Linked DNA regions of Homo sapiens. The protein of the gene in region 1 interacts with the protein of each later gene in a pairwise test. Each region holds a gene or a part of one and is shown on either strand. Other genes may lie near its edges.

Evidence for each region.
Region 2: the proteins of PLAC9 (region 1) and CCDC14 interact in a two-hybrid assay, tested with the Homo sapiens proteins (one large-scale study listed by BioGRID and IntAct).

The regions. Positions count from the first base shown.
Region 1 is NC_000010.11:80,135,487-80,139,311, forward strand, and holds part of PLAC9 (placenta-specific protein 9 isoform 1 precursor), read left to right. Parts: intron 1-3,825.
Region 2 is NC_000003.12:123,944,062-123,947,886, forward strand, and holds part of CCDC14 (coiled-coil domain-containing protein 14), read right to left. Parts: intron 3,259-3,825; coding exon 2,742-3,258; intron 930-2,741; coding exon 788-929; intron 1-787. UniProt on the Homo sapiens protein: Negatively regulates centriole duplication. Negatively regulates CEP63 and CDK2 centrosomal localization.

The DNA.
Region 1 (3,825 bases):
AGCTAATTTTTGCATTTTTTAGTAGAGACGGGGGCTGCGGGGGAGTTTCACCATGTTGGCTAGGCTGGTCTCAAACTCCTGACATCAAGTGATCAGCCTGCCCCGGCCTCCCAAAGTGCTGGGATTACAGGCATGAGCCACCGCGCTGGGCCCAAGTCTTGGTTTCTTTTAGCAGCACTCAGAGAAACCTTTATCCCTGATGGCTTTTTAGACCATGAGCCACCACGCCCGGCCCATATTTTGGAGTTTTTTATAAAATCACTTGAAGAATAGTTTTCTGCTGCTTTCAAAAATGATCAAAACCCGTGGATGGTTTTGAGTGAATCATACATTTTAATACAAATATTGGATGTGGTAAATTTATTATTCTATTATGTTGAATGTGGTCAAATATAATTAACCCCCAAGTGGCCAGGGTTGCTTTTCAAAGCAGAGTGTGACTTTGACAATTCAGAAGATACAGCGGCACCTTTCAGATGCCACTGAGAAAACATTTCTCAACCCCCAGCATGCAGAAATCATCTGTGTTGTGGCCCTTTCTTACTGTTTGGGTCCAGATACAAAAGGTCTCCCCATAAGGCCTGTAAGTAGAAGCACCCGTACTTCCGCCTCAGAGGATGGGACCCAGGGGCCACGTCTCTTTAACTGGGGCAGCCAGCCCAGCCGAGCCCTCCTCTGGGGCCTCCGGGCTCCACAGCAGCGTGTTCTCACCAGCACAGGATGCCCCACCCATGGCCACCATCCAGGGTGCACATCAGGCCCCTAGCAGGAGCCGGGCCAGAGAAAACAACGCAGCATCCAAGGAGGTCCATTTCCCAACTGGCAGGGCCTGGGAGAGCGGGAGGAAAGGAAGGAAGGGAGCCCTGAGGAGCCACAGCCTTGGCTGCTCAGGGTTAATCATCATAATCCTTCAGTCTTTTCCACTCCCCTTGTCTGAGCCACTGACAGCCCTGTGGTGCATGTGCGTGTCTACTATTTTTTATTCATTTATTTATTTTCTTACAAGACACAGTCTTTCACTGTCACCCTGGCTGCAGTGCAGTGGTGCAATCGTAGCTGACTGTAGTCTCAAACTCCTGGGCTCAAGCGATTCTCCCGCCTCAGCTTTCCAAATACCTGAGACTACAAGTATATACCACCAATCCTGGCTAATTTTTTTTTAATTTTTATTTTATTTATTTATTTATTTATTTATTTATTTATTTTTGTAGAGACAGAGTCTCACTATGTTGCCCAGAGTGACCTCAAACTTCTGGCTTCAAGCGATCCTCTTGCCTCAGCCTCCTAAAGCTCTGGGATTACAGGTGTGAACCACCGAGCCCAGCTCGTCTAGCTAATTCTTGAGGCCTCTCTGCAGCCTCCAAAAGACAGAAGAATTAAGGATGCGCTACACGGGGGAGTCAGGGCCTCAGGCCTACCCTACCCCATTTTATGTAAGAGGCAGCAGAGGCTCAGGGAGCAGAAGAAACTTTCTCACAATCCCACAATCATTAGTGGCTGAACCAGGCTGAGAAAAGGGGTCTCCAGCATGTTTTCTACCATGATGCGTTCAAGTCAGCGCTGTGGTGAGGATGCTGGCAGTACAATGTCAGGCCCTGCTCCAAGCTTGCTCTCTCAGATGCACTCTGTGGAGGCCCCGATGAGCTCACGGACAGTTGCTCCAGGGTGCACAAAGCACAGTTTTGTCCAGATGTGAAGGATTAGTGCTGAGCCATGTTGGGAGCGACCTCAGCCCAGCCTTTTCCCTGGAGGGGTTTTGGAGCCAAGTTAGACCTCATCACAGACACGTAGAGAACAGGGTGGTTTAGGCCAGTGGAGGGGAGCAGGCTCTGGTTGTTCTGACTTCCAAAGCAGCCAGACTCCCATTTGGCTGGCAGGGTCACACTGCATCCCCCTGGCCTGAGCCTTACACGGGAGAGTGGCTAGGGTCTGGGAGAGGGCAGGTGAGCCTCAGAGAAAAGGCTTGGCCAAAGGCCTCTGGACAGAGCCAGCAGGGGGGTATGTGTATCCACAGACTCATGACAACAGGCCCTCCCCTAGGACGGCCACTCTGTGGGTGACAACAGAGGCCCCCTCAGAGCTTTTCCTCTCCAAGCTGAGCAGCCCAGTTTCAGCTGAGAGAATTGAGTTAAAATTTGGAGTCCCAGACTGGGTGCGGTTGTTCACTCCTATAATCCCAGCACTTTGGGAGGCCGAGACAGGCGGATCACTTAAGCCCAGGGGTTTGAGCTTAGCCTGGGCAACGTAGTGAAATCCTATCTCTACAAAAAATACAAAACGTAGCCAGGCATGGTAGTGTGTGCCTGTAGTCCCAGCTACTCTGGAGGCTGAGGTGGGAGAATTGCTTGAACCCGGGAAGAAGAGGTTGCAGTGAGCCATGATTGTGCCACTGCACTTCAGCCTGGGTGACAGAGTGAGACCCTGTCTAAAAAAAAAAAAAAAAAAGAGGAGTCCCTTCCCATAGCCTCCTCTAGACCTGCTCCTGCCTCTCAAGGGCCTTCTCAGGATGTGGGGCCAGGATGGAGCATAGCCCCCAGGGGCCTCTCTCTCTCTGAATATTTTACATGAATGCCTGCAGCCCACAATGGCTGCTGCTTTCTGCTGACAACCTCGTCAGACAGCCAGCTTTTGTTATGGAACATTTCAAATCGTGCACACAACAGTAGACAGAATCGCTGAATGCACCCCCATTTGCTCATCACCCAGCTTCAACAATCAGCAACTCTCAGCCCATCCTGTTTGCTCTAAACATCCACGCATGCCTCTCCACCATCCCCACTGAGGCCTGGATTATTTACTTTGGAAGTAAATCCAAGACAGCACAGCCTTTCATCTGTAAATATTTCAGTATAGGTCTTTAAAATACTTGCATTAAAAAAATAACCAAAGGGCCATTATAATGTCCTCCTCCCTCCCCAGATTCAGCAATAACACCATTATCTTTTGAAGAGTATTTTCTAAGTTCAGTGGAGGGAAATAATGAAAAGGATAATTTGGAAAACAGATTGTTCTCCACAAAAGATGCTCAGAGTGGAAGGACATTTTGTCTCTGGTCCTGTTCTCATCTCTGAGTGGAAGTGCTGAGAGCTAGATAGAGTTGGAATCAGAAAATCACAGGGCAGGGGGTCCCCACCTTGCTGAGATGAGAACAGGAGGTCAGGGTGCCTGAGGTCCAGGCATTTGCAGATGGTGTGACCTTGGGGAAATCACTCAGCCTCTCAGAGTTACACATCCATCATCAGCTCTGTCCTACCTCAAGACCTGCCCCACTTCTAGACAACTGCAGATGGCCCCTTGGCCAACCCATCCAATACCAAGGCCTTACAGCTACAAGCATTGCACGTAGAGAGATCAAGTTCCATAACTCCCCCTATTGAGCTTTGGATGCCCGCATCCATGGCCACAGCCTTAATATTGTCACTCTCTGAAGCTGCTCGACCTCTAAAAGTTAAATTGCAATATTCCTTTTTTTTTTTTTTTTTTGAGACGGAGTCTAGCTCTGTCACCCAGGCTGGAGTGCAGTGGCGCGATCTCCACTCACTGCAAGCTCTGCCTCCCGGGTTCACGCCATTCTCCTGCCTCAGCCTCCCTAGTAGCTGGGACTACAGGTGCCCACCGCCACGCCCGGCTAATTTTTTTGTATTTTTAGTAGAGACGGGGTTTCACCGTGTTAGCCAGGATGGTCTCGATCTCCTGACCTCATGATCTGCCCGCCTCGGCCTCCCAAAGTGCTGGGATTACAGGCGTGAGCCACCGCGCCTGGCTAAAATTGCAACATTCTTTACCTCTTGTTCCTCCTGTGATTCCTAAGACCTCCAGTCTCTT
Region 2 (3,825 bases), on another chromosome or scaffold:
ACTGAGCTCTCAACCTGTGGGATCTGATACCATTTCCAGGTAGATAGTGTTGGAATTGAACTGGAGGACACCCAACTGGTGTCTGTTGCAGAACTGATTGTTTGCTTGCTGGTGGGGAGAAATCCCTACACATTTGGTCATATAAGTGTTCTGTGTCGATTGCTGTGGTGTGAGAGCAGAAGAAAAACAGTTTGCTTTTAACATAATGTCCCAGACCTTTCTATTAGGCAGGGCCATGTGCCTTGTTTCAGCCTATAAAATATAAGTGGTAGCGAAACGATCACTTCTGGGTTGAGCCATGTAAGACTCCCCCATTACCACATCCACATTCTCTTTTTCCTAGACAACACATACTGAGACAGTGGCTTCATAAAATGGAGGCAGTCTGGATCCTGAGTCACATGATGAAAGAGCCACCAATGATCCATGTTAGTCTTGGCATGAGGGAGAAAGAAACTTGCTGTGCTATGCAAATGAGATTTAGAAGTTCGTTTCTGCAGCATAACTTAGACTAGTCTGATAAATATACAGAGGTACTTCATTTTTCTGCCTACACACTACCAAGTGACAACAGGGGTAAAATAAGTGGGAGAAAATACATACAAGTGGGCAGAAGGAAGAGTTAGAGAATGCTGGAAATCTCTGAAAAATGAGGAAGAAAAGTAGAAATACAGTAAGACAGCAAATAAATTTTACTTATGAAGTCCTAGGTATGTCATTTGCACCTTTGTTCTGGCCAGGAGACATCTTTGCATACAGACAAAAATATTCAAAGAGCAATTCTTACCTTCGTAACTGAGCATTCTCACTTCTTAATGGTTGCATGGCCAGTGCTATCTCAACTTGAATATCTGTGTTTCCACTTACTGTTGGAAGTACAGATATACATGCCTCCATTTCTGTAATCAACCTCTGAATTTCTGAATCCTCTATAGAAGGCAACAGAAATGAGTAAAATCAATATTATATTTTTGGACAAGATTATTAGTATGTATTACTAAAAAAGAAAATCTTTATAGATATGTACATTCTTGTTATAAATTCAACTCAATTATTTATAAATTTATTATACAGGTTCCATTTTTCTCTTTCATGCTGCTGGTATTTGTTTCCTCAGAATTCTAAAGAAATTAAGTTCAGTAAACTAAAGATTAATCTTAAATCACAGGATTATTACATAAGTGATTTTTTTTTTTTCAGTTCAAGAGTCAAGTAGGAATGTGGCTTACACAAAACTCTTAGTCCATAGTTACAAAGGACCACAGTGGACTCCTATGATTGCTATAGGGTTTCCTATAACTGGTTATAGTATTAACATTTATAATACAACCTTTGATCCTGGCATAAGCAAACAATTTACTTTAGGGGGTTAATATGGCAAAATATTGAGTGAGGGTCTGCTAAGATAGTTTCATTACTTAATTTTCTAAAGTAGATTGAACACAAGCAGCCACATCTCATTTGATGTGACATCAAAAGTTTGTTAATAATTGTGGACAGTAGATGTTTTTGGAGATTGCAAACAGACACAGGCATAGAAGGTAGATATTAATTCTTTTGCCTTTTATCTTTGTCCCCTCATTCCCATTCATATTTACTACGGGCTGAAAGTACTTAAAATTATTTATTAATCATCTGATAACCTAGAAGTTGAAAGTGTATTCTAAGTTACAAAAATGTATTCAGTTTCACAGATATTTTAACATCCTCATGAAAAGTATATGTACACAGTAAACAACTGTGTTCAATGATCAAGCAGTCTTCTACCAATCTTTATTTATTTATTTATTTTGAGACGGAGTCTCAGTTTCCTCATCAGTAAAATGGGAGTGGTAACAGTACCACATAGGGCTGCTGGGAGGATTAAATGAGATAATGCATATAAAACACTTAGCACTGTGCTGGACACATGGTAAGTGTTCAATAAATGACAGCTAATGGTATTATTATTATTACCATGATTATGTATCTGACTGTGAAAATGGTAATAAGTTGAAGGTCTGAAAACAGAGCAATTTTAATATACTAAATCTTTGGTCTAATGGTGCTACATTTATATAGCATTTTAAGATTTTTTTTTTTTTTGGTCTGCAAACGTTAGGTATTCAATCAATGCTTCCAAAATCAATTACTGTGTTTCCAAGATGACAAAACTGTAACTCATTTCAAGCAAAAGCCATTACTATAGAATACATATACAGAATGGAAACAAATGAATAGAATCTGGCTCAGAAACACCTTGATTTAAGAAAAAAAGTCCTAAAAATACACTGAAAAGGGCATAAGAAGGTATGCGTTACTTCTCAAAGTGAGATTTGTTAAACAATCTAACAGTTGGCTATTAAAGAAGTGACAGGAAAGAATTCTCTGCATCTTTTTAAAACAGGAAGAATAATCAGTCTACTCAGGGAGTTAATCATTTATAGGCATTCTCTAATTAAAATTTTTATCTGTCCAAATTCTCTTTGGTTGACTCTTTTCAAGGTCTATTATCAAGCAGAATAAATACACACTTGCAAGCAAAAGACTGAATGTTTGACATTCTCAAACGCATTTTAAATCCACAGGAAAGAAGGGATCAAAACTTAAAAAATAATACAATAAGTAGAACTCATTTTCTTATTAGCTCAAAACACAGTTCTATGGAAAATACCACAAACTCCATTTAAATGATAGCTAAATAACATGACATTGCTATTTAGTATAACACCATACTACAGAAAGTTATAAGTCCCATCTACCTTGTTCTGCTACCAGGGCCTTGAGCTCTCCCAACAAATATTTTATAATTCTAACTTTTTCAGCTGTCTTGTTCACATTTTTTGCCTTCTGTACATCCTTCACTGTTTTTGTATCTCGCACATGTATGTTTAAATCCTTTCTTTCACTTGTGGCCTCTCTAATTTGCTCTCTGGCACATTTTTCTTCATTAGTGGCCAAGAAAGCTGGTTGTGACTGAGTAGGGCTTCGGTGTGTCTGACTGTCCAGATGCGTTTCTTTTCCATGAGATCGAAAAAGAGACAAATATGTTTGAATACATTTTAGTAGGTCTGTTTCCTTATGAATTCCTTGTTGTGGCAGAATTCCATTAACAAGGCCCAGTTGCTGCAATGTTGGAATAGCTGATATGTCAGTTTTGGGCAGGCTACATGGAACTCCAGGACTGGTATTAAATGAATTCCGTAGAACATCAGTACAGGTTGCAGAAACTGTTTTACCTTGTGATGCAAACTGACTGTTGCCATCAGTTTGAACTTCCTAAAGAAAGATAAAAACAAGTCTTCAGAAGTATGAGCACTCATTTGTAGGTATTAATTACAACAAACTCAAATATATGAAATATATTTATTAAAACATGTTTATTAATATATTCATTTTGTGAATATTTAATAAGTAGTTACCACTATATTTTGAGGATATACTATAGTCTGTGTAACTACTCCCATACAGTTAGACATTTAAGTAACAGCCAGTTTTTCACTGCTGAAACATTTCTGTAAATATGTTTGTGCAAAAACTTTTTGTATGTTTAAACTTATTTTCTTATGATGTAATTTCCCAAAGTGGACTAATTTTTGATGCTTTTAAACCATCTGTGGTATTTGTAAACAGTCTATTTTAGTCATGGCCTTGTAATGCTCCCATATTACAGGGTAAATTAAGCTTTAAAAAACAAGAATCTTTATTGCACTGAGGAAAAAAATCCAACTTACTTTTAAGCTAAAAATATTAGTAAGTTTCTGATATTAAAAACTTGCTTATTAATAATAATATTAATTATAAGAAACTCAAATATATGGTTACTACTCCTAACCATATAGTAGT